Linked DNA regions of Homo sapiens. The protein of the gene in region 6 purifies or fractionates together with the protein of the main gene of each other region. This does not show direct contact. Each region holds a gene or a part of one and is shown on either strand. Other genes may lie near its edges. The genes, in order: SOAT1, PIGO, SPPL2B, DNAJC17, EVI5L, PTH1R and SIDT2.

Evidence for each region.
Region 1: the proteins of PTH1R (region 6) and SOAT1 purify together in Homo sapiens (affinity purification with mass spectrometry; 2 studies listed by BioGRID and IntAct, with this or other methods). This does not show direct contact.
Region 2: the proteins of PTH1R (region 6) and PIGO purify together in Homo sapiens (affinity purification with mass spectrometry; 2 studies listed by BioGRID and IntAct, with this or other methods). This does not show direct contact.
Region 3: the proteins of PTH1R (region 6) and SPPL2B purify together in Homo sapiens (affinity purification with mass spectrometry; 2 studies listed by BioGRID and IntAct, with this or other methods). This does not show direct contact.
Region 4: the proteins of PTH1R (region 6) and DNAJC17 purify together in Homo sapiens (affinity purification with mass spectrometry; 2 studies listed by BioGRID and IntAct, with this or other methods). This does not show direct contact.
Region 5: the proteins of PTH1R (region 6) and EVI5L purify together in Homo sapiens (affinity purification with mass spectrometry; 2 studies listed by BioGRID and IntAct, with this or other methods). This does not show direct contact.
Region 7: the proteins of PTH1R (region 6) and SIDT2 purify together in Homo sapiens (affinity purification with mass spectrometry; 2 studies listed by BioGRID and IntAct, with this or other methods). This does not show direct contact.

What each region holds. Positions count from the first base shown.
Region 1 is NC_000001.11:179,300,297-179,303,796, reverse strand, and holds part of SOAT1 (sterol O-acyltransferase 1), read right to left. Parts: intron 1,121-3,500; 5' UTR 1,113-1,120; coding exon 995-1,112; intron 1-994.
Region 2 is NC_000009.12:35,088,188-35,090,889, reverse strand, and holds the end of PIGO (GPI ethanolamine phosphate transferase 3, catalytic subunit), read left to right. Parts: intron 1-217; coding exon 218-424; intron 425-605; coding exon of another isoform or gene 606-609; coding exon 610-824; intron 825-1,439; coding exon 1,440-1,510; intron 1,511-1,668; coding exon 1,669-1,798; 3' UTR 1,799-2,202; downstream 2,203-2,702.
Region 3 is NC_000019.10:2,335,184-2,338,683, reverse strand, and holds part of SPPL2B (signal peptide peptidase-like 2B isoform 2 precursor), read right to left. Parts: intron 1,242-3,500; coding exon 1,059-1,241; intron 1,053-1,058; exon of another isoform or gene 1-1,052. UniProt on the Homo sapiens protein: Intramembrane-cleaving aspartic protease (I-CLiP) that cleaves type II membrane signal peptides in the hydrophobic plane of the membrane. Functions in ITM2B and TNF processing.
Region 4 is NC_000015.10:40,769,474-40,772,973, forward strand, and holds part of DNAJC17 (dnaJ homolog subfamily C member 17), read right to left. Parts: intron 2,977-3,500; exon of another isoform or gene 1,551-2,976; coding exon of another isoform or gene 1,023-1,550; exon of another isoform or gene 507-1,022; intron 1-506. Other genes in the region: C15orf62 (uncharacterized protein C15orf62, mitochondrial precursor), read left to right, coding at 1,023-1,550. UniProt on the Homo sapiens protein: May negatively affect PAX8-induced thyroglobulin/TG transcription.
Region 5 is NC_000019.10:7,861,218-7,865,476, forward strand, and holds the end of EVI5L (EVI5-like protein), read left to right. Parts: intron 1-660; coding exon 661-801; intron 802-904; coding exon 905-1,060; intron 1,061-1,170; coding exon 1,171-1,317; intron 1,318-1,754; coding exon 1,755-1,850; intron 1,851-1,967; coding exon 1,968-2,063; intron 2,064-2,206; coding exon 2,207-2,485; 3' UTR 2,486-3,759; downstream 3,760-4,259. UniProt on the Homo sapiens protein: Functions as a GTPase-activating protein (GAP) with a broad specificity.
Region 6 is NC_000003.12:46,887,721-46,891,220, forward strand, and holds part of PTH1R (parathyroid hormone/parathyroid hormone-related peptide receptor precursor), read left to right. Parts: intron 1-3,500.
Region 7 is NC_000011.10:117,177,451-117,181,542, forward strand, and holds the start of SIDT2 (SID1 transmembrane family member 2 precursor), read left to right. Parts: upstream 1-1,292; 5' UTR 1,293-1,813; coding exon 1,814-1,996; intron 1,997-3,965; coding exon 3,966-4,087; intron 4,088-4,092.

The DNA.
Region 1 (3,500 bases), on a different chromosome or scaffold from region 6:
CTCCCCAGTATTGGCTCATCCTCCTTTGCATAAATTTCACATTTTATATCACACTAAAACTAGCCCATATGCCATATAAATATGTCATATATAGCTAACTAAGAGCCTATCAATAAACCTCATTATGCCAACTCAAGCAGCAATGTTTACATTCCTGGTGGGATCCAGCTGTTGATATTTAAGTTTAATTAAATTTAGGTAGGAAAAACAAAACTGTTTCTTTATGAAAAGAGATGAAATGCCAAAGACAACCTGTCTCAGAAGGTTCCGCACCTATTTGTTAACTAAACAATCCTCAATTTTCAAATCCTTGTTGAAATCAAACCTTTACAAATGTCACTGCAAAAATTAATACCCTGATGCAATAGATGACATCAATTAGAGTTGTGTTTACAAGTCTATCATTCATAATCATAAACCTTGACCTTAACAACAAAGGACTATCGTATTCCTCTTTGTAGTCAGGCATTAAGCAAACGTGGATACAAGAACTAATAAAACTCCCTAACTACTCCTCTCCCAAGATTTATAGCTCAGTATTGAACTGGGTTAGGCACCCTGCTAATTACTCACATTTTACTCATTACATCTATTATGAAAGTAGTTAATTACAAGAATATTACACTGTGATAAATCTAGTTATGTGTATGATTTTGGAGGTTTTGTCATTCACTTAACTTGGAGCTCCATAATGGCAAACAAATCCGTACTGATCACTGCTATAGCCCCAGCATCCAGCGGGGGACCTCAGCAATTATTGGTAGGTTACGTGACTGAATGAATGGTCTCTAAAACACAGCAGATACCAATAGATGACCACCAAATTAATTAACGAGAAAGGACTTATTGTCTAATTGCTTTGTTACTAGACATATAAAACTCTATCAATACCCATTTACAATAAAGAATTAAAGAGATGGCAATACTTATTCTATAACACTGTATTTGTTCTCTATTTCACTAATTCACCTAAAAAAAAAAAATTAAGCCTCACCATTACTAGGTGTCTCTAGGGACTCCTTTGCAGGGTTTCTCTGGTCTTCATCTTCCTCAGGATTTTCCCTGGACTTTGACAGCCGGTTTCTTAGAGACATCTTCTCTTCACCCACCATTGTATTGTCTAGGAAAGAAGGTGTAAAAAGCTTTCGTATTAGTCCGTTTTCACACTGCTATACACTACCTGAGACTGGGTAATTTATAAAGGAAAGAGGTTTAACTGTCTCACAGTTCCGCATGGCTGGAAAGGCCTCAGGAAACTTACAATCATGGCAGAAGACCAAGGGGAGGCAAGGCATGTCTTACGTGGCGGCAGGAGAGACAGAGCAAGGAAGTGCCACATTTAAAACCATCAGCTCTCATGAGAACTCCCTCACTATCACGAGAACAGCATGGGGGAAACTGCCCCCATGATCCAATCACCTCCCACCAGTTCCCTCCCTAGACACGTGGTGATTACAGTTAGAGATGAGATTTGTGTGGGGACACAGAAGCAAACCAATATATCAGCTTTGAACTAAGCATCTGGCTTACGTGAATTTCACAATACCACTATATTTAGGAGAGGTGAAATGTGATGATACATTCTCTTCCTTTTGCATTAATCATTTCAAAGCATTTTCTGGGTACAAGATACTCAAGATAACAAATCTGAAGAAATCAGGTCCTATAAAATAATTGGAATGGTTTTGAAGCCCCTTTTTAAACATAGACCCCACTCTTAAAGAACAATTTAGTTGAACAAAGCATTAAGTATGTAAAAAAAAAAAAAAAAGGATTAAATAGTAACAGGTAACTACAAAGATGCCACAGGGTGGAGTATGATTTAATAACAAAGTCAATGGTAAAAACAATACCTTAAGTTCAGAGACAGCAGAGATTAGCAGAAGATGTAAAGGTTTCACAGAAAAGAAGGTATTTTAGACACAGTCTTGAAGGATGAGAACTGTGCATTCCATGTGCAAGAAAGGATTAAAACAAGGACCTTATAAGCCCCGTTCAGGGAACCATGAAGGAATTGAACTACGACAAAAACAAGTTTTTGTTAAGTATCTACTAAGTGCAAGGACCCTGCCAGATGCTTTAAGTTTTCTCATTTAATCTTCATAACAATTCTGAAAAAAATTACCCTCAGTTTTCACATGAGAAAACAATGATTTAAAGTAGTTACTATCAGTGTCCTCCACCCATGTACCAGGAATACACCTGCAGTTGAACAAGCTGAATTTATAGGAATGCACACCACAGCCCCAGGTACTAGAGTCTGCTTTTCTTCTCATTACAGTAACTTGCCCAAGACCACACAGCTAACGACAGAGCCCGATTGGAACTGGCATTAGTTGGATCCAAACTACAAAGACCACTAACTACTGGGGGAAAATAGTTGGTAATGGAGAAATGTGATGAGGGAAAAGACTAGAAAGGAGGACAGGAGTCAAACTATAAAGGCCTAAGAAATTAGAAGTTTTTCAGGAAGGCAGTGGTGAGACACTTTAAGCACTAAAAAACATGATCAAAGATCAATATCAAGATAGTACAAGGTTTACTCTAAAGCCATGTGTTTCCCTAGTTGGGCATGGTGGCACACAGCTGTAGTCCCAGCTACTTGGGAGGCTCAGGCGGGAGGATGACTTGAACCCAGGAGTTTGAGTCTGGCATGGGAAACATAGCAAGACCACATCTCAAAATTATTTATTTATTTATTTATTGAGAAGGAGTATCGCTTTGCCCAGGTGGGAGTGCAATGGTGCAATCTCGGCTCACTGCAACCTCCGCCTCCTGGGTTCAGGCAATTCTCCTGCCTCAGCCTCCCGAGTGGCTGAGATTACAGGTGACTGCCACCACACGTGGCTAATTTTTGTATTTTAGTAGAGACAGGGTTTCACCATGTTGGTCACGCTGGTCTCGAACTTCTGACCTCAAGTTATCCGCCCGCCTCAGCCTCCCAAAGTGCTGGGATTACAGGCATGAGCCACCGCACCCGGCCAAAAAAACAATTTTAAATAAAAAGTAAAGCAGTGTTTCACTATGTGATAAAGTTTTCAAGAGTCTAAAGCAAGAAGAAAACAACTGTGAAATACTCATTACATTATTTTAAAGCTATATATATTTAAATTCTGAGACTACAGTTTTTCTTAATTTTTGTACTAAAATATCCTTTTCTGTATAAAAGGATGAAATATAGTACATGGTGGGTTTGGTTGTTTTTCAACTATCACAGCTTGGCAAAGTAAAAATCTGACAAATCTAGATCGGCTTTCTTCTAATTATTTCTGAAATCAAACAAATGAAACAATTGTGGAACAGCAGATGAATATATCAAGTAGAAATGTTATGATATCATAAGATCTAATTAAGAGGAACTTAAGGGAAAAGTCAGGGCTAATAAATCACAAGACGATGCCCAACTTACAATGGTCCAATTCTGTGTAAAAGTGACAGAGGAAGCCACAAGAGCATCTATCTCTTCATCAGAAATGATGAGAGAAGTAAGAACTGAAAAC
Region 2 (2,702 bases), on a different chromosome or scaffold from region 6:
GATTGGCCATAGCAGGATTCAGATAAGCCTGATGGCGCTTTTGTACCACAGAGAGAATTAGAATAACAGAATGTTGACTGTAAGGAGGTTGGGCTGATAGGCATTTGAGTGTGTATGAGAATTGATACTGAAGTAGTAGGAGTATATGATTGTGGAGCAGTAGCCTATGGATTAGGGAATAAGAAGTGACTGTAACGTGGCATATCTTTTCTTCCAGGTCCTTTTACTGTGCCATGGCAGGCAGTCTCGGCTTGGGCCCTCATGGCCACACAGACCTTCTACTCCACAGGCCACCAGCCTGTCTTTCCAGCCATCCATTGGCATGCAGCCTTCGTGGGATTCCCAGAGGGTCATGGCTCCTGTACTTGGCTGCCTGCTTTGCTAGTGGGAGCCAACACCTTTGCCTCCCACCTCCTCTTTGCAGGTACCCCCTCCTCCTTCACTTGCTTCCATTGTTTACTCTGGCTTTGTGGAAAGAAAGGAAACCCCTGGATTTGAATGGAGAGATATGGGTTTGTTGGATCTTTGGCACCCCTTGGCCTAGGCTAATTGGAACCTGAGCCAGCCAGGGTGGCCTGTTGATTCCAGCCATACCCTCTCTTGAGGCAGTAGGTTGCCCACTGCTCCTGCTCTGGCCTTTCCTGTGTGAGAGTCAAGGGCTGCGGAAGAGACAGCAGCCCCCAGGGAATGAAGCTGATGCCAGAGTCAGACCCGAGGAGGAAGAGGAGCCACTGATGGAGATGCGGCTCCGGGATGCGCCTCAGCACTTCTATGCAGCACTGCTGCAGCTGGGCCTCAAGTACCTCTTTATCCTTGGTATTCAGGTGGGTGTAGGAGAGAGATCAGGGAGTTGGTGTTTTTTCTCTGTGTGTGCATCACTTTCTTTCAGACCTTCAAAACCGTGGGAGAGAGCCTTGACTGAGTTTCACATAAGTGAAGTGGTTGCCCAAGCCCAGTGGCCTCAAATGGCAGTTCTGAGACTTGAACCTGGGTCTCCTTAATCCTAGTCCTGGATCATTTCCCCTCTACAACCTAGATCTGGACCCCGCTAGTTGCATTTGAGGATTACTCTATCAGTGGACAGACTGGAAAAACTGAGGTGATAGCCAGGATTTTCTTCCCAAACTGTGGTCATGGATCCTCTTCCTTTCCTCCAGAGGCAGATGTGGCACTGATATCTTCCTCCATCCTGGGGGCACAGCCTGAGTGTTAGCATTGCAGATGGATACTGACTTGCCCAAAGTCACATAGTGAGTCAGTGCTTGGGGCAGGGCAGGAAGTAGGTCTCCTAACTCCTAGCCCAGGACATGCAATATTTTTTCCACTGACATGCACTATTCTCCTGCTTCCATTTTTTACAGGGGCCTATAGAAACTCTCCTTTTGCTCCGCTTCCTCCTCTCCTTCACAAGTAACGTGGCCCCTCCTCTCCTCCTCTAGATTCTGGCCTGTGCCTTGGCAGCCTCCATCCTTCGCAGGCATCTCATGGTCTGGAAAGTGTTTGCCCCTAAGTGAGTAGATTTGCTTGAGAAGTAGAGGTGGTGGGGAGGGAGAAACTTGGAACAAAGTATGAAGATCCTAAACATCCAGGATGGCCAAGGTTTTGCCTCTACAGGGAAAAGGCAGTAGACCTACTCTGTTGCCTGAGATTCTCCGCCTTTCTTTGCAGGTTCATATTTGAGGCTGTGGGCTTCATTGTGAGCAGCGTGGGACTTCTCCTGGGCATAGCTTTGGTGATGAGAGTGGATGGTGCTGTGAGCTCCTGGTTCAGGCAGCTATTTCTGGCCCAGCAGAGGTAGCCTAGTCTGTGATTACTGGCACTTGGCTACAGAGAGTGCTTGAGAACAGTGTAGCCTGGCCTGTACAGGTACTGGATGATCTGCAAGACAGGCTCAGCCATACTCTTACTATCATGCAGCCAGGGGCCGCTGACATCTAGGACTTCATTATTCTATAATTCAGGACCACAGTGGAGTATGATCCCTAACTCCTGATTTGGATGCATCTGAGGGACAAGGGGGGCGGTCTCCGAAGTGGAATAAAATAGGCCGGGCGTGGTGACTTGCACCTATAATCCCAGCACTTTGGGAGGCAGAGGTGGGAGGATTGCTTGGTCCCAGGAGTTCAAGACCAGCCTGTGGAACATAACAAGACCCCGTCTCTACTATTTAAAAAAAAGTGTAATAAAATGATAATATAATTATGTGTGTCTGAGATGTGGGGGAGCCCCACTGTTCTATAGGGGTTGTGAGGAGGATCAGTCTCTCCTGCCACCAGGCACAGATGAGATCAGTCATCTTAGGAAAGCCTGGCTGCACCTGAGAACCTTTATGAAGTGGTTGGAGTTGTCTGAATTCACTGCCTCCACCTCTTCCCAAATCAATCCTATTATCCCACCGCTATTTTCCTTTGCCATGCAACACATTTTGTTAAGTTCCTGTTCTTTGTCTGATAAAGAGAGAAGACTGAGAAGACAAGCCCAGGCATCATGCAGCACCGACTTTAACTGTCTGAAGCCCCAAATAGTGCTATGCCCCCGCTCCACTGGGCCTTTTCACTATAGAACACCCTTTGCCCTTCCCTTCTGTGGAAGCCTCCCTTGTTTCCCAACCTGTGCCACTCTTTATCAGATCTACATGCCCATCTTATGTAGCATTCCACCTTGTCCCATTCATTATTCCTGACTTGAAGCCAAAATTGTGT
Region 3 (3,500 bases), on a different chromosome or scaffold from region 6:
ATTCGCCTCCTCTCCTGGGACCCTCACTCGAGGCTCGGGTCAGGCTGGGGGCGCCTGCTGGCTCCCCCTCTGCAGCTGACAGCCTCCGGCCCCCCAGGAGGACCCAAGAACAGGGAGGCCGAAGGGCATCAAGCCTTCTTCACCTGACAACAGGGCCCCAGGCCTAAAAGCGCCACTAATCCCTCCCTCGGCCGTGGGACTCCCGAACCGCACATACAAGTCCTGAGTGATACTTGTCACAGCCCATGCCTGCCCACTAAGCCGCCTTGAGCCCCGCACCCACTGAGGGCCTCTCTCAACTACGACGGCAGCGTGTGCGGACAGGGATGGCACTCTCGGCTCTGCCCGGCCTGCTCTGCCCTCGGCCCTGAGCCCCTGCACCAGGCCTCCGTGGATTGCCAGGCTCAGGGTGCAACACTGGCGGGGGCAGCCCAGAGCCACAGGCAGAGCTGTGAGGGAATTCCTGAACTCCATTCCTTCTTACTCCAAAACTACACTTCAGGGGCGGCCACGCACCCTGCCCAGCCCAGCAGTCGGCATGTCCCTGTGCTGTGACCAGCCCTGCCAGGCCCCCAGCTCTCAACCACAGCCCCATTTCACAGAAGATGGAAAAGGGGCCAGGCTTCAGGCCACCTGGCTAGGACCACAGGCGAGCACGGCCCCACCGGCTAGAGGGCAAGGGCACCAGGGTACCCAGAAAGGACCAGCTCAGGGCCAGGCCACCTGCTCCTCAGAAGCCACCCCAATCCCATCCCCACAGAGAGTGTGGTCTCCGTCACCCCTGGGGGCTGCTCTAGGACAGGCACCCAACAAGACCACGGCCAAAGTTCCACAGCCCCAGCCAGCAGCTCAGGAAGAACAGACTCATCTCCGCCCTCCCCACGGCCACACTCGGCCCGGATCCTCCCCATGTTCACACTCGGCCCAGATCCTCCCCACAGATGGATCTGCCTTTAGCGAGAAGTCGGAAGACCAGCCCCAGCTGCTGCCATCTCTGCCTCCTGCACCCCCCTCCTGCCCCTGAGAGCTGGCCCAGCGGGGGACGCACAGGGCCGTACCAGCCTCTCCCTGCTGACGATGAGCAGCCCGCGTGCTCCGCTGCCCTGGGCCAGCCTCACTTTCTCATAGAAGGTGCAGTTCCCCCGCGCCACCAGCGGGATCTGGTTGCTGAAGCCACGGGCGGGGAGGTCGGCTGCGGAGCAGAGCAGGGAGGCCGTCCAGTTGCGCAGCTGCAGGAAAGACTGGAAAGGCCAGGGCACAGTGTTGTCTCACGTGATGTGAGTCACCAGGAGGGCCCAGCTGCCCGTTCTCCCACCTGAAGCCTGCGCTGAGTTAGATCCCAGCCCTCACCTAAAGCCCCGCACGGCCTCGGCCCACCTAGGCAGAGCCATCCCTACTGCAGCTCCCACAGCCGGACCCTGGGCGACGGGCTGGGCTGCCTCATCTGAGCGGGGCCGGAGTCCTCACAGACATGGCTGTCCCCTGATACCTGAGCCACCCCGCGAGCCGTCACAGATCACTCAGCAAGACCAAGTGGGTCCCCACCGCAGCCCCACCACGGCCAGGCATCTGTGAGAAGGGGGAGGGTTTCCAGTGTGCAGAGAACAAAGCCCCAACTCTCAGGGGCCTCACAGCCCCTGAAGCCAAGACACACACGCACACACACACGCACACGCACACACACACCCACAGCCAGGCCGGAACACGCGCACACACAAGCACACGTCCACAGCCAGGCTGGAGCACACGGCACACACATGCATACATGCACACACACACACACACCCACAGCCAGACCAGTGCACACGCACACACCCACAGCCAGGCTGGAGTGCACACACACACACACGCACATAGCCGCAGCCAGGCCAGCGCGCACACACACACACACCCACAGCCAGGCTGGAGTGCATGCACACACACGTGCACACATACACAGCCAGGCCGGACCACATGGCACACATATGCACACGCAAGCACACACATGCACACTCACACTCAAGCAGACACATGCCTATTACACACATGCACACACACACGCACACACAGCCAGGCCAGAGCACACAGCACACGTGTGCATATACAAGCACATACCTGTGCACTCAAGCTCACGCACACACACCTATTACACACACATGCATACACACACGCCACATGAACTCACACACTCACACGCACATACCTATTACACATGCACTCACACACACTCATGCACACACACGAACCCAAACACACAGGCACATACACATCCACACACAAACCTATTATCCACATGTACACACACATACACACAGACCTATTACACATGTACACACGCACACATGTGCAGACACATGCACACATCCACAAACATAACTATTATGTAGCTACATGCTTACACACACCTGCACACATACAGACACACATGCACTCACACATCCATACACAAAACTATTGCATGCACACTCACAGGCACATGTGCACATAAAAACAGACATACACATTCAGACCCATGCACATGCCCCCACACACCTATTACACACATGCTCACACACACAGGTGTGCTGACACACAAACACGCACTAAGGCACACATGTCCATGCACATATCTAGTACACATGTGCTCACACACACAAACTCAGAAATATGCACTCAGGCACATGTCTTCACACATACCTATTACATGTGTTCACATACCTATTACATGTGTTGACACACACCTATGTGTTCACACACAAAAAAACACTCAGGCACATGCACACATACACTGATGCAAACTCACATAAACATGCAGACACATGAGCATGTCCAGGCACATACTGATTACACACGTGCTCACACGCACACACTATGCATAAAGCTGACAGGAAGATGCTAGTGCCTCTTCGCCGGCACACCTCGAGGGCTCCAGGAGGGGGCGGGACACAGTGGGAAAGGAGGCGGGGCCTGAGGGACTCAGTGGGAAAGGAGGCGGGGCCTGAGGGATGCGGTGGGAAAGGAGAGAGGGCCTGAGGGATACGGTGGGAAAGGAGGCAGGGCCTGAGGGATGGGGTGGGAAAGGAGGCGGGGCCTGAAGGATGCAGTGGGAAAGGAGGCAGGGACAGAGGGGTGTGGTGGGAAAGGAGGCGGGGCCAGAGGGATGCAGTGGAAAAGGAGGCAGGGCCTGAGGGATGAAGTGAGAAAGGAGGCGGGGCCTGAGGGATGCAGTGGGAAAGGAGGCGGGGCCTGAAGGATGCAATGAGAAAGGAGGCGGGGCCTGAAGCATGCAGTGGGAAAGGAGGCGGGGCCTGAAGCATGCAGTGGGAAAGAAGGCGGGGCCTGAAGGATGCAGTGAGAAAGGAGGCGGGGCCTGAAGGATGCAGTGGGAAATGAGGCGGGGCCTGAAGGATGCAGTGGGAAAGGAGGCGGGGCCTGAAGGATGCAGTGGGAAAGGAGGCGGGGCCTGAAGGATGCAGTGGGAAAGGAGGCGGGGCCTGAAGGATGCAGTGGAAAGGAGGCGGGGCCTGAGGGATGCGGTGGGA
Region 4 (3,500 bases), on a different chromosome or scaffold from region 6:
CTTGGAGCCACCCTTGGCGGGCCCCCAGCCCAACCCTGGGCAGCAGAGCCCGCCCATCACAGGCATGGCGCTGCTCCCCATTAACACACCCTCTGCCCCCCTTCCTGTTCCTGCTCGTGAGGGCCTGACAGCGGGGCTGAGTCACCCATACCAGCTACAGGTCTCTTCCTTCCCCAACAATCGTTCCACACGCCTGCCTTTCAATTAACTCCCACCCGCCCCGAACTCTTCCTACCCAGACACTGTGGGCAGGGAGCCAGGCGCACCTGCTGGGGGCCCAGGGTGGTGGGGCTGTGATCAGAAAGGAAGCCGCGTGGTGACACATAAAGCAGGGCTGCCCCCACACGAGTCCCCAGAGGAATCTTAAGCTCCCCATTGCCCTGGGGTGTTGGTCCCAGCTGCCCCATCCCTGCACGCGGATGCTGCAATTACCCAAGAGCACGAAACCTGGCTTCCCACCTGACTGAGTCAGCTGAGAACAAAAACACATCTCCACCGCCACAAACAGCCAGGCCACTCATCAGAGTCCGGGAGCCACTGGCAGAGAGGGCACGGCCCCACACTGCCCCAGAGACATATAGGAGCCAGGCAAACACCAGGGCGAGTGAGCTCGGGCCATCTGCTGCCTGCCTGTGGAAGGAGCGCTCGCCAGCCTCACCCAGCCCGAGAAGGTCCACCTCTGCCTCCGCCGGAGCTGCCCTCATTCTGGCTCCAGTAAGTGCTGCTTCTTCCTCCTGGGTTTTTTTCCACTACCCTATTCAGTAACCAGGCCACTCCTGTCCCTGTGGGAAACTCTTGCTGCCAGGAACTCCCAGCTGTCTGCTCTCCTGGGCAAAAAAGTTCCTTCTTCCTGAGCCCTCCTCTCACCATCCAAGATGTGGTCAAAGGTCTGTGCTGAGTGGAAACCCTGAGGCCTCTGCTCCTAGGGGAGCCTCCCCAGCTGCTGGCACTCACTGCCCCAGCAGGGACCACATGCACCCTGGCTGCTCCTGAACACCTGTCTGCTGGCTCCCCTGGGCCCCATGGAGACCTGGCGGAAAGGCTCCTTCCGCAACGCCTCCTTCTTCAAGCAGCTGAGCCTGGGGCGGCCACGGCGGCTCCGGCGACAGAGTAGTGTGCTTAGCCAGGCCAGCACAGCAGGTGGGGACCACGAGGAGTACAGCAACCGAGAAGTCATCCGGGAGCTACAAGGGAGGCCAGATGGCCGGCGCCTGCCACTGTGGGGGGACGAGCAGCCCCGGGCCACCCTGCTGGCCCCACCCAAGCCCCCACGCCTCTACCGAGAGAGCTCAAGCTGCCCCAACATCCTGGAGCCCCCACCTGCCTACACAGCAGCCTACTCTGCCACCCTGCCATCGGCGCTCTCTCTGTCGAGTGCCCTCCACCAGCACTCAGAGAAGGGCCTTGTGGACACTCCCTGCTTCCAGAGGACACCTACCCCAGACCTCAGTGATCCCTTCCTCTCCTTCAAAGTGGACCTGGGGATTTCACTTCTTGAGGAAGTTCTGCAGATGCTAAGGGAGCAGTTTCCTAGCGAGCCCAGCTTCTAAATGGGGTGAGGGTGGGCAAAGCCGGGGTGACTGGAAGATCCAGAGGCTGGGGATTAAGGAAAGGACAGGGACAGGACTCCAGGCCCATCGCTGGAGGGTTCAGGCAGGCAGAGCTTCTTCATCCTGGGGGAGGATTCCAGGATAGGAATCCAGGGCTCTGCCTGCTCTCTGGGTCCTGGACAGTCCTTCCAGGCACCCCAGAGTGGAGGGACAGAGGCAATCTGGAAATGTTGGGGGGGCGGCCCTTCCTGGCAGGACCCTGAAGAAAGCTGGCTATGCCGGGAAAGGGAGGCTGTGCCGGGAAAGGGAGGCTCTGTGCGGCACTACAGGAACCAGGTAGAGGCTGGCAGAGCCAGAAGGTGGCACGGGGTCAGATCAGGGAGTGGGAGGACACAGACTGAGCAGAAGAGATGAGTGCCCCATGCCAGCCTCTTTGGAAGCCACTGTCAACAGAGAGAGGTCACAGGACAAGCTTGGGTAAAGGCAGTCCAACCCAGGCAGAAGAGGAAAGTGGGAAGGCCCAGGAAGAAAGGGGAGAAGGCCTGACCCTGTCTAATCTGGTGGCCACTCACTGCATGACACTGAATTGAAATAAATAAAATTAACAGTTCAGTTCCTCAGCTGCACCGTTATTCCAGATTCCACATTCCAAATGCCCGGTGGCCACACATGATTAATGGCTACCACACTGGTCAGTGCAGAATGGACGTAAACATCGCTGCACAAAGTTCTAATGGACAGCGCTGTCTAGACCATGGCCTGGAGCCACCAGCAAAGGGGAGGCGCATACAGGGGCTGGCCACATAGGAAGAGATAGGTAGAGATAGAGTATAACTCAGGAAAAAGACCAGGCAAATCCTTAGCAGAAATGAGGACGTGGCTCAGTCTGCCAACACAGCTACCCGGAGCAATCCCTGGTGAAGGAAGGCAGCTCTAGAGAATGCCAGCCACAGGCACGCGCACGGCTTGCAAAGGGGTACTTTGGGGAATTCCCAGAATTACTAGTGATGGGAGCCCTGGCAGGTTTCCTTCCTCGAAGAGAGGAGAACTGGATCCAGGGATGGGCATTCAACAGCGAAGCGGCACAGCTGGTTTCCAGAACCGTCTCCCGGGATTAGACAGTTCTGCCGCCTGAACCCTCCGACGATGGGCCTGCCAACCAGGCCAAGCCCACTGGGTCAAAGCCACAGGCTGTGCTACGGCCCCACCCCATGGCCTCACCAGAACACAGAAACCAGAGCCCAGCAGCACTGGCTGGGCCATGTGTTGGTGGCCCCCCGGGACTCGCTAAGAGTAGCAAAGGGGAGAGGGAAGCTCTGACACACACCATTTCTACGACCTAAATCAGTGGCCTCCCTCTTTCCTCCTCTTGTGTATAGGTACCGAGCTGTGGATACAGGAGAGAATGAATAAAATTCTAACACAATCTATGGAGTGTTATCTGGGGCTGTGAAATGCTGGGACTTGAAGGTGGGAATGAGGTCTCTAAAGCAGGGCCCTGAGTCAGGCCCAGGCCAGTTTGTTTCCCTCCATCCAGGATCTGGGACACACTTGCAGAAAGCTGCTTTCCAGTCACCCCAGTCAAGTGGAGGGGCAGGCAACGGAGCAGGCTGGCGTGGGTAAAGTAATGAGAGCAGCCTCCTGCCAGCCTGCTGAGGGGCTGTGGACACACCAGACAGGCCCTGGGCCACTGCAGAGAAGGGAAGAACCAGGTTGCTAGATCTTGCCCCCAAAGCAATCTGTTCCACCAAGGTGGGGACAGGTGTGGCCAGGAGCCCCACAGCCCTAGCCTTTGTATCCAGGCCAAAAGACACCAGGGCCATGGTTGCAGGTTGGGGGTTACACACAAGCTGGAAGGTCTACGCTTCACCCAGGCAGGGCACCCAGACTCTGGGCAGGCACCACCCCGTGTCAGCAGGGTAGCCAGAGTTCCTTCTTTTTTTTTTTTTT
Region 5 (4,259 bases), on a different chromosome or scaffold from region 6:
CTCCCAAATGGAGGACTGAGAGGCCATCTGCTTCCAGGCCCTCATCACCAGCCAAGAGCTGGGCTCCGCTCCCGCCTCCCTCCACTTCATAGGGAAGTGTGCCTCCAGGACATGCTGCTAGATCTGTCCCAGCCCTAGACCCAAACACGGGTCAGTGCGGACCTCATCCAGAAAGCTGGATTTGGGTCCTGGAGCACAAATCCTCCATCAATGAGCCCTGGGACACCAGGACAGGGCCAAGGCTGGCACTCAGCCTGTTCCCAGGGAGAGGGACTGCCTGGCCTGGTGTGGCCTGGCCTGGGGGCCAGAGGGCAGACAGGGTGTTTCTGCTGGGGCAGGTCCTCCACCTGATCATGTCCCTGAGGGGATGGATCTCAGACCTCGGGGAGTCAGTGTGTGCAGCGCGGCGTTTATGGGGGTTGCCCTAGGACACCCTGTGAGAGTAGGTGCTGTTACTACACCCATTTTATAGCTGAGGAACTCCAACCGGGTTCCACAGGCGAGTCCGCTCCCCGTGGGCCTTGTCAAGGGGGTCGCCCTCCCCCATCTGAGCCGCCCAAGGCAGAGCTCAGGAGGAAACGTGGCTGGGGGCGTTTGTCCTGCAGGAAGGGCCATGCGGCTGCGCTGCTCCCCCAGGCCCTGACCCCACTCTTCCCGCAGAGGAACAGCTCGCTGCCCGACGAGAACAATGTGGCGCAGCTGCAGGAGGAGCTGAAGGCGCTCAAGGTGCGGGAAGGCCAGGCGGTGGCCTCGACGCGAGAGCTTAAACTGCAGCTGCAGGAGCTCTCGGACACCTGGCAGGTGAGGGCCGGGTGGGCGCCGGCGGGCAGAGCGCCCCCTAGGGCCATCCCCTCGGGGTTCTTGGGCGGAGGCTGACCGCCGGCTTCTCGGCTTCACCCCCCAGGCCCATCTGGCCCGCGGCGGCCGCTGGAAGGAGTCCCCACGGAAGCTGGTCGTGGGCGAGCTGCAGGACGAGCTGATGAGCGTGCGTCTGCGCGAGGCCCAGGCCCTGGCCGAGGGCCGCGAGCTGCGGCAGCGCGTGGTGGAACTTGAGACGCAGGTGGACTCGGGGGGCCTGCTCGTTGGGGAAGGGGCGTGGTGTCCGTGGCCAGCCCCTGAGTTAGGCCCTGACCGCCGCCGTCCTCCGTCCTCCCTTCCTCCCTATCCCAGGACCACATCCACCGCAACCTTCTGAACCGCGTGGAGGCGGAGCGCGCGGCGCTGCAGGAGAAGCTGCAGTACCTGGCTGCACAGAACAAGGGGCTGCAGACGCAGCTCAGCGAAAGCCGCCGCAAGCAGGCCGAGGCCGAGTGCAAGGTGCAGACCCCCGCGGCCCCGCCCTGCCCGTGGCACCGCCCCCGGACGCGCCCCTACATGAGGCCCCGCCCCCAATCCGCCTCTGCCGGCGTCCTGCCTCCCGATCTGCCCCTGCCCGCGGTCCTCCCGCCCCCGCCCGCGGCCCCGCCTCCTGACCTGCTCCTGCCCGCGACCCCGCCTCCTGATCCGGCCCCGCCTCCTGACCACCCCCCCCCGCGGTCCCGCCTCCTGATCCGCCCCCGCCCGCGGCCACGCCTCCTGACCCGCCCCCGCCCGCACCTCCCTTGCCCGCGGTCCCGCCCCTGCCCGCGGTCCTGCCTCCTGACCCGCCTCCGCCCGCGGCCCCGCCTCCTCATTCGCCCCTGCCCGCGGTCCCGCCCCCTGATGCGCCGCGCCCCCTGACCCGCCCTCCTTTCCCCCCAATCCCCCGACCCCAGAGCAAGGAGGAGGTGATGGCTGTGCGACTGCGGGAGGCGGACAGCATGGCTGCGGTGGCCGAGATGCGGCAGCGCATTGCCGAGCTGGAGATCCAGGTGATCGGCGGGGCCGGGGTCGGGGGGCGGGGGCGGGGGCAGGGCCCGGGGCAGGAGCGGGGCCGGACCCCAGGCCCAGCATGGCACTGGCCCCGCGTGACCTGGCGCACCCCGCAGAGGGAGGAAGGCCGCATCCAGGGCCAGCTGAACCACTCGGACTCATCGCAGTACATCCGCGAGCTCAAGGACCAGATCGAGGAGCTGAAGGCCGAGGTGAGCCGGCGCGGGGATGCCGGGGACAGGCCTGGGTGTCGTCGGCCTGGGACGAGCCGAGCGCAGGTGCCTTGCGGAGGATGCGGCTGGGAGGGCGGGGCAGAAGGCCGGTCCACGCCTGCAGCGCCGGTCCCCCGCCCCAGGTGCGGCTGCTGAAGGGCCCGCCGCCCTTCGAGGACCCGCTGGCTTTCGATGGGCTGAGCCTGGCGCGGCACTTGGACGAGGACTCGCTGCCGTCGTCGGACGAGGAGCTACTTGGCGTAGGCGTGGGCGCTGCCCTGCAGGACGCATTGTACCCTCTGTCCCCGCGCGATGCGCGCTTCTTCCGCCGTCTGGAGCGGCCGGCCAAGGACAGCGAGGGCAGCTCAGACAGCGACGCCGATGAGCTGGCCGCGCCCTACAGCCAGGGTCTGGACAACTGAGGCCATGCCCAGCGCGCCCGGAGTCAGGAGGCCGCAGCCGCGGGGGGCGCCCGGGCAGTCCGCGTTCTGCTCCCCACCTGCCGCACTTGACAAACTACGCGCCCTCTGTGGCTCGGCCACCCCTAAAGCGAGGCCCGGCGAGGCAGCGCAGAGGGTAGGGTCCGACCTGGGCTCCTCAGGGCCCCGGGGCAGGCTCTCTATCCCCAGCAGTGTTTACCCATCTTGGTCTGTACCCCTCCGGGCCCTCTGGCGTTCCAGGGGTGCCTGGAGGGGCTGACTGCTCTCTTAACAGGAGGGCAGAGGGCAGGGGACAGACGACCCAGAGGTCCCAGCACTGAATGAGCAGGCAGCTCCCACCTCCTGGCAGGCTTCCTTCTGGGACAGGGGCGACATTGCTGGGAAGTGCTCAGGAGGTAGCCGAGGCCTGAGGAAGGAGAGCGCCAGCTCTGGGCTGGACATCAGCACCCCACAACACTCCTCGGGATGAAGTGACCCTTGACTAGCCCCTGGCCATCTCTAGGGGAGTCAGGCCGCTGGGGACAGATGGCCAGGCCGGCCTCTCCTGCCTGGCGCAGGCACCGTGGCCCCTGCAGCGGAAACCAAAGTCCCCCTACTATGTGCGGGGCGCCTGGGGACTGAGTGGCTAACGGGAAGCCTCCCTGCTTCTCTGGGGCCAGAGCAGCTTCCAGGAAGTGAAGAGACCCCTCTCCCCAGTGCCCCACATCTTTCTCTGGGAGACACTCGCGCCCCCTATCCTGGCCAGTGATGGAGGGGTATCTCTACAGGGGTCCTCGGTCTCCATCTACTTCCCTTTCTTCATGTGTTTCCAGCCCCACCCTCAGCCAGAGCCAGGCCCCCAGGCAGGAGCTTCCCAGCGAGCGGCCTCCCCTCACTTCCTCCTGGTGGTCCCGTTGTCTCTGCTGAATCAGAGCTGAGAACGGTGCCAAAATCCAACGATGCCCCCCAGGCCCCTTCCTCCCTTCCCCCGGCCCCCCGGGCCTCATGACCCTGGGGGCTGCCCCCCTCGGTGCTCCCGGAGCCTCCAGTAGAGTAGCGTCACAAGCAATCTCCCTGGCGCTTCCTGGGTGGGGACCCCTGCTCCGTCCCCGCTTCCTAGCTGCCCACTTTTCAGTGTTACGAAGCCTGGGGACCGGGGCAGGCACCCACGGGGCTCTCCACACGCCCCCTACACTGCCCGCCACCATTTTGCACACTGCCTGTTCACATGTCGCCCAGGCGGGAAAAATGGAAAATAAAGTGTATTTACACAGTCACGGACTGGCCTGCGGGCTGGGAGGAGAATCACAAGCAGCGGTGGGTGCCCAGCCCAGGGACCAAAAACCGTGCTGAGGGAAGGTGGGGCTGTCCTTGCCCTTAGGAGCTCCCCACAGTCTCATAGAATGGGGGTGGGAGAGGATAGAAGGGCATTCAGTTTGGGGGCAGGGCATGATTTCCCACCTGGGTGAATCAACTTGGGCCTCCCCTGAAGGAGAGAGGCATGCCGAATCGCTGGGCTTCAGGAAGCACAGGACCCGGTTGCATTCATTCTGCTCACGCCTCCAGGGGTAATGTGGGGTACTCTGCCCTGTGCCTGGCTCTGAGGGGGTCTCCAGTGGAGCAGAGGAGACAGGCACTGGGCAGGGGGAAGCCTGCACTAATGTGGTAGGTGCTCAATAGACAAATGTGCAGGGAGATCAGGGAAGGCTTCCTGGGGGAGGTGGTGTCAGGGCCTCTTCGAGGGGTAAAAGCATAAAGATCAGACCAACAGGAGGCA
Region 6 (3,500 bases):
CATATTTTGACGTAAATGTGTGTCTTAGAGATCTTCATTTCAGTAAATATGAATCTATATTTTTAAATGCTGCATAGTATTCCAAAACCTGGGACTCATTAAGTAGTCCATAGGAATGTACATTTAGATCATTTCTGCATAATTTGTGTGTGTGTCTATATGTGCGTGATTCCAGATGGTGGCAGGGAAGCTCCTTGAAATGCCCTCTAGTGTCCCCATGTGACTATTTCCTAGTAGGATATTTCTAGATTTTGTCATTGCTGGGCCTGAGAATATACATATTTTTTATTTTAATAGCATGGCCAAATTGCCCTCTAAAAAGCTTGTGCTGCTTTGTACTTATACAACACCAAGACCAACCAGGAGGGCCTCTCTGCCCACACCCACTGTCTCATAGGATGTTAAGAGGATTCTTTGTGTTTCACCTTTGCTTGGATAGGTGAAAATGGTGTCTCTTGTCATTTTAATTTGCTGATTACCAGTGACTTCTGGGCTTTACAGTGAGAGCTTGCTCGGGGCCATTAACCATCATTCTATGGGTTATTTGTCTTTTTCGTATTGATTTGTTGAAGCTTTTTATATCACCTGCTCTTAAACACATTCACCTCAGCTCTTGAAACGGCTTATGGACAGAGCAGCAGGAGGGTGCCGAGCCCTCCGAGGAACTGGGGTTTTCTTCGGAATGTTTTAATGAGGCGTCAAGTAGCCTCCCTCAGATTCCTGTTGTGGGCCTTCTGGGGACACTCCCTGGTCCAGCCACCACATCAGGAAGGCAGCTATTTCAGAAGGAGAGTCCTCAGGAAAAAGAAAAGGTGGGGCGAGGGTTTTGCAGACCTCTGAAATTGTCTGCAAAATACGGTGTGATTGGGAGAAGGGCGCAAACTTTTGCTCAGGTTTGCAGAAACATCAGAGACCTTCAAACCCTTAAAAGCCCCAACTCTGGGGCCAGTCTTATGCCCGAGGTGAGACCTAGTGGGATCCCATTCTGCTGAGCAGGCGATGGCTTAGATTAGGCCATACTGTTCTTCTGGGCCTTGATTCCTCAACCCAAGTAGGGCCTGCTTATGAAGATCCACCAGGTCGTAGCAGCCAACTCCGCTATCCCAGGCTGCATCCCACTGCCTGCCCCGAAGGCGGCCACGCTGGCTGGCCAGGATGAGAGGCGTCACAGTGCCTCTTCCCCCCCAGCCCCTCCCAGCCCCAAACACAGGCAGCCTGTTCAGGAAAGCCTGGCGAAGGGGAGGAAAAGTCAGCACTTGTCAGCGGTGGCGGGGCAGGACGAGGAGCCTGCTCAGGCCAGCCGGACAGAGAGAGGGCAGCAGGGGTGGGGGAGCAGTCCCAGCCAGCTGGCACGGGAGACATCCAGGGGTGCCAGCATGGGTCCCAGTAGTAGAACCTGGAGGAGGGCTGTAGGAAGGCCAGGAGGTCATGAAGGGGTCTCCTGTTAGCCAGGGTTTTCTCCTTCTGGCTGTGCTGGAGGCATCAACGGCCTGGTTCCCAACACCAGAGCCCAACTGTCCTCTACCCAGTTACAGCTGGGGACAAGCCGCCATCACTGGCATCACCGGCACCTTTATGTCTACACACCTCTGCTCCTAAATCGGCTTCGGGGAGGCTGCCTTAGGGGATCTGCAAAGGGAGACTTGCTTAATGTAGCAGCTAAAATCCAGGATTATGGAAAGATGATACCGTGGCTGGTGCCAGGGTACCCGTGTGGCTGGGCACTTCCTCCTCTCTTTCCCTTCTTCCAAGGCTGCTGCTTCAGTGTCAAGCAGATCTTAGCTCCATCCCTGGCCCTCCTCTTTCTGTGACTCTTGGCCTCAGTGTCCCTGTCTGTAAAATGGGGATGTGGTAGAAGGTGCAGGAGGCATGGGTTTTAAAGCTCCTTGCTGACCATGGGGAGGATGTGCTACAGTGGAGGGTATTGAAGCCAAGCACCATGATGGCTGGGTTGGGGGAGTCAAGTCAGCCCTAATCAGGACCATAGGAGGAGTGTTGGGGGGATATGGGACAGCTGGTGCAGGGCTGGGTGGCCTGTAAGTGGTGGGTATGGACTAAGTGACCCCTGGCCACAGCCCAGCCCCAGTCCCTCAGTCCTCACCCCTGAGACCCAAGATCTGCAGATCCGCTGGATCTAAGGGGACGCAAGCCTGAGTCCTCTGCACCCTGGCGCTGAGCCAAGAAGACAGGAACTCCTCAAGGGAGAGAGGGTTGGAGGGGCGGGGAGAAGGGAGTAGCAGACAGGGGGCATGCCAGGCTGAGAAGAGATACAGCTGTCAGCATTTCCCCTTCATCCCCAGGAGATAAGGCCTCCTCAGTCAGGGCAGAGGCAGAGGAGGGGGTCCTTTTTCCTCCTAAGCTCAAGCTTGGGGCCTCTGGCAGTAACCTTGAATCCTAATGTAAGTCCAGAGTGGATCCAGAAATGCAAGGAGCCATTGGGATACTCTTCCATCCCAAAAGCTTGCCAGGAACACCTTATCTAGCAGGTCCTCCTGTAGTCCCTGCCCCCAGTCCACCCTGGGGCCCCATCTCCCATCTGCCCCTCACTGTCACCTGCTGGACTCAGCCATCTACCCAGATAATCTCCCCCAGCCACCTTGGGTCCCTGGCCTGGCTGGGAGCACCCATGTCACCAGGCAGCAGGGGTGCACATGGCGGGGATGTGACTTGCTGCTGCTGCTGCTGCTCACAGTATCAACAATAGCAACCAGCTTTTCCTGAGCTTCACCCCTGCACAGGCTTGTTGTGAAGTACTTCATTTAATCTTCACAGCAGCTTTTTTTTTTTTTTTTTTTTTTTTGAGATGGAGTTTCGCTCTTGTTGCCCAGGCTAGAGTGCAATGGCGCGATCTCGGCTCACTGGAACCTCCGCTCCCAGGTTTGAGCGATTCTGCTGCCTCGGCCTCCCGAGTAGCTGGGATTACAGGCGCACCACCACACCCAGCTAATTTTGTATTTTTCAGTAGAGACAAGGTTTCTCCATGTTGGTCAGGCTGGTCTCGAACTCCTGACCTCAGGTGATCCACCTGGTTTGGCCTCCCAAAGTGCTGGGATTACTGGTGTTAGCCACCGTGCCGGGCCAACAACAGCCCTATTATTACCCTGATTTTACAGGAAAACTGAGGCACACGGGTTAAGCAACTTTCTCAGACACGAAGCTAGTCAAGGGTGGAGGTGGGATTCACATTGTGGGGCTGGTGGCAGAATCTCCTTGAAGAGGAGGGCACAGCTGGAGGGAGGAGTGAACAGGAGTGGGGGCATTCCAGGCACGGAGCTGTGAGCTAACGTTTGGAGGGGTAGCGCACTTGGTGTGGGGTTGTCCTCCTCTTCTTGGGAAAGTGCTTCCTTAACTTTAACATGAGTTATTCTTGTTGCAATGGCTGTGCTAACAGATAAATAGGTCCTAAAGTTCAGGGAGGCCAGAGGTGGGGCCACCACCCCTATGGATGAATGAAGGAGTGTGGGAGTCATGCGTGCTGGAAGCACATATCTTTCCCTCTC
Region 7 (4,092 bases), on a different chromosome or scaffold from region 6:
GGAGACATTGCTAAATGTTTAGTACAATTTTTTTCTATTTTTCTATGCATGTCTATATGCATTTGGAATATATACGGTTTTATTTACTTATTTATTTTTGAGACAGAGTCTTGCTCTGTTGCAGCCCAGGCTGGAGTGCAGGAGCATGATCTCAGCTCACTGCAACCTCCGCCTGGTAGAGTTAAGCGATTCTCCTGCTTCAGCCTCCCCAGTAGCTGGGATTACAGGCACGCGTCACCACGCCCCACTAATTTTGTATTTTTATAGTAGAGATGGGGTTCACCATGTTGGCCATGGCTGGTCTCGAACTCCTGACCTCAAGTGATCTACCTGTCTTGGCCTCCCAAAGTGTTGGGATTACACGTGTGAGCCACGGCACCTGGCTCTATATACTGTTTATTTAGTGTCATATCCTGAATTCTCTGCTTACGTGTCCTGTGAAGTCTTAAGCATCATTTTTGATGCCTTCATGATAGTGCATTTAACCAATCCCTCATTATGGATATCCAAGTCATTTCCTTTTTGCTTTATATTATAAATATCACAGTGATAAGCGTAGCTGCCCAGGTATTTTTATCTGTGCTTCCTATTTCCTTAGGATAGAGTCCAGAAGTGGAATTACTGGATCAAAGGGTATAAAGCTCTCTAAGTTTCTTGAAACAGTGCCAAAATATTTTGTAGAAAAGTTTTCACCAATTTACACTGAAGGTCAGTATCTTTCAATGAGTTTTGTAACTGTCTCTGAGAGAAGAGGGGAAACAGCCCGGCAAGCTTGGAAAGCTCGGAAGGCCGTCCCTGCAGTTGTGTGGCCCCTCTAGAGGGAGGTGGGAAAGGCATGGGGATTCCTCCTGCAGTGCTGCCTCCGTTTCCCCTCCGCCGGTAGGGCCACCGTCCTGTTTCCTAATCCTTCGAGTTTTTCATTTTTTAAGATCCCCGGAGAAAAAGTGGCCCAGGGTTGGACGATGTTAGTTGTAAAGGTGGTGGTGGGGGTGGGGGAATCCTTATGTTTGAGCAAATGTAAGAGTTGTTCAGCAAGAACCCAACACTTGGAGATTGTTAACAGAAACATCTGCCTATTCCAACGTGAGTTTCAGAGATGGTGAAAATCACGGGAGAGAGTTGGGTAGGAGTTGGAGAAGGCATTGCAAGCTTTCCCCTTCAGCTAGACAGCTGCAGCCCCTTTAAGGGCAAATGCGGGACCTGGTCCTTTAAATCTGTGTCAGTTTCCCCTGACGTCAGCGGGCGGGCCAGCAGCCCTGCTGTTTATCGCCCAGCGGCGCAGCTCACTTTTCAGTGTTCGTGCGTCGGGACGGCGCGTCCGCCCGCCCTTAAAGGGCCCGCACCTCGGAAAACTCGCAGCCCAGCACGGCGTCGGGTAGCTACCACCTATCACGCCCCTCACTCTGCGACTCGCCTTCCTCCGCGGCCAGCCCCCGCCGCCGGCTCTTCCTCCCTCCCCTTTCCCGGCGTCTCCAGGCTCCCGGCAACCAGCCGCCCTCCTTCTCACGGCCCTGGCCCGGGGCTCCAGGGTCTCAGGTCGTACTCAGCCCCTCGCGAGCTGGGACCCCTTCCCGTAGCCAGCATCCCCTCCCTCCCCGCCCCCTCCCGGCCGCCCCCTCCCCTGCGGGGACCCTGGGAGCCTCTTCGGGGCTCTTGGGAGGGGACATTTCCTAATCTCAGGCCGGGGTTAAAGTTCTGGTCCTGGTGAGATGCTGGAAGCTGCGGCCGCAGCCGCAACCCGTCCCGGAGGTGTCCTGTCTCCTGTCGCCGCCGCCGCCGCCACCACCGCTGCCACTGCCGCCCTGCCGGGGCCATGTTCGCTCTGGGCTTGCCCTTCTTGGTGCTCTTGGTGGCCTCGGTCGAGAGCCATCTGGGGGTTCTGGGGCCCAAGAACGTCTCGCAGAAAGACGCCGAGTTTGAGCGCACCTACGTGGACGAGGTCAACAGCGAGCTGGTCAACATCTACACCTTCAACCATACTGTGACCCGCAACAGGGTGAGGGCTGGGGGCTTAGGGGCCAGAGGCGAGTGGGGAAGCCGACGAGGGCTAGGCGATTCTGCCGCCCCGCTACCCTTTTGGGAGGCCCCAGGAACGAGCTGTCCTGCTAGGTTCCCAGTTCCCAGAACCACACTGGAGCCTCTTGACCAGTCCTCCTTCCTTTGCCACCAATGTTTCTCTGAAGCTCCAGCTGGGCAGTTTTTGAAGTTGGCTCATTCCCATCTTCTCTTCCGCCCCCATTCTTCCATCAGTTGTGGTCTGAGCACACATGGCTTGCTCTCTACCCTAAACCCCAGAATCTGACAGCTCTGTGGGGTCTCGGTGGGAGAGGAAACAGGCTTATTACTGGGCTTGCCCAGAAAACCTCAGGGGAATGAGACTGGCCCAGAACTGAAAAGCTCTGTGCAGGCAAGTTACATCTCAGACTCCCCAGGGAGATGAATGCAGGGCTTCCCAGCCCTCTTCCTGCCTGGGAGAGCCAGCTGGCCTTGTAAATTGAGGGTGACAGAGGTTTTATAAGGCCAACTGCAAGTTGGGTGGGAAGAGAAGGGGAATTTGTCCACTGTGAAAAATCCACTTCACCCTGACTTCTCTTTGGTTTCTTCACCAGCTGTGAGTCCCTGAGTTGAAATAGACACAGCTAGTGTGGGAAGTCTAGACCCCAGGCAGAGCTGAGATTGGGAGAATTCTTGCAACCTGGCTGTGTGGTCTCGTGCCCGGGTCTCTTGCTCTCTCTCCATGACTGCCGTTTACTGAGAAGCAATGGAGTTGAGAATGGGGAATCTGATTTTTTTTCAGAACGGGGAGTGGTTTGGTTTCTGTGGCAGGCCAGGATCTGCCCCCAGTGCCTGGTTCTCTGAAGTTTGATCTCTTTCTGCTTAGAGTCCTTTCTTCCTTTTTTCCCATATCTAAAGGCACTGGAGAGCTGTGGTTTTTACTCTTTTGGGAAATGCTGCCCTAGGGCTTGGGTTTCAGCAGCCCAATAACAAGCATTCCAAGATCGATTTGGTTTTATTTTTCCTTTAAGCTCCCATTGTTTATATATGTTCCTTCATAGCTCCAAGGGTGAAGATCACTTTATCTTTTTTTTTTTTTTTTTTTTTTTGAGACCAGTCTCACTCTGTTGCCCAGGCTGAAGTGCAGTTTTGTGATCTCAGCTCACTGCAACCTCCGCCTTCCCGGTTCAAGCGATTCTCCTGCCTCAGCCTCCCAAGTAGTTGAGATTACAGGCGCCTGCCACCATACCCAGCTAATTTTTGTATTTTTAGTAGAGATGGGGCTTCACCATGTTGGCCAGGCTGGTCTCAAACTCCTGACCTCAGATGATCCTCCTGCCTTGGCCTCCCAAAGTGCTACAAGCGTGAGTCACCGCACCCGGCTGTCATTTTATAGAGGGAGAAGTTGAGGCTTAGAGAAGTAAAGTGACTTCTCCACAGCCCTGTCCCTTGGTGGGAGCTAAGGATACAACATGGCCTTCAATACCTACCCCTCCTCAACTCCTCTGGGCTCTGGCCCCAGGTTAGCTGTTAACTAGAGCTTCCTGCTGGCTTCCTGGCTCACAGGAAGGTTGAGGAGCACTTCTTGTTCTCCTGTGTCTTCGTGTGTGGGGGCGTGTGTACACGTTTGTGTGTGCAGGCCTGTGCATCCTGTGCACATGGATAGGAATGGGGTATCCTGGAGACTCGCAAGGCCTCCACCGTGTTTCCTGGCAGAGGGTGAGACCCTGCGGTTGCTTGGGTCCTGCTGCCCTGCACATGTCTGCCGGCCAGGAGCTGCACTCAGCACAGGTCTTTCCTGGAGTCTGGGGGTTGTTCTGGCAGAAGAAGAGGCAGAGATGACTCCCTGGCCCGACCAAGATGGAGAAAGACCAAAGTAGCTGGCATGAAGGAGGGCAGGGCTCATAGTCTCTGGAGCCACGTGTCCCTGGTGGCAGAGGCTTGAGAGGCATTTCCATGTCGTTCTGCAGACAGAGGGCGTGCGTGTGTCTGTGAACGTCCTGAACAAGCAGAAGGGGGCGCCGTTGCTGTTTGTGGTCCGCCAGAAGGAGGCTGTGGTGTCCTTCCAGGTGCCCCTAATCCTGCGAGGGATGTGAG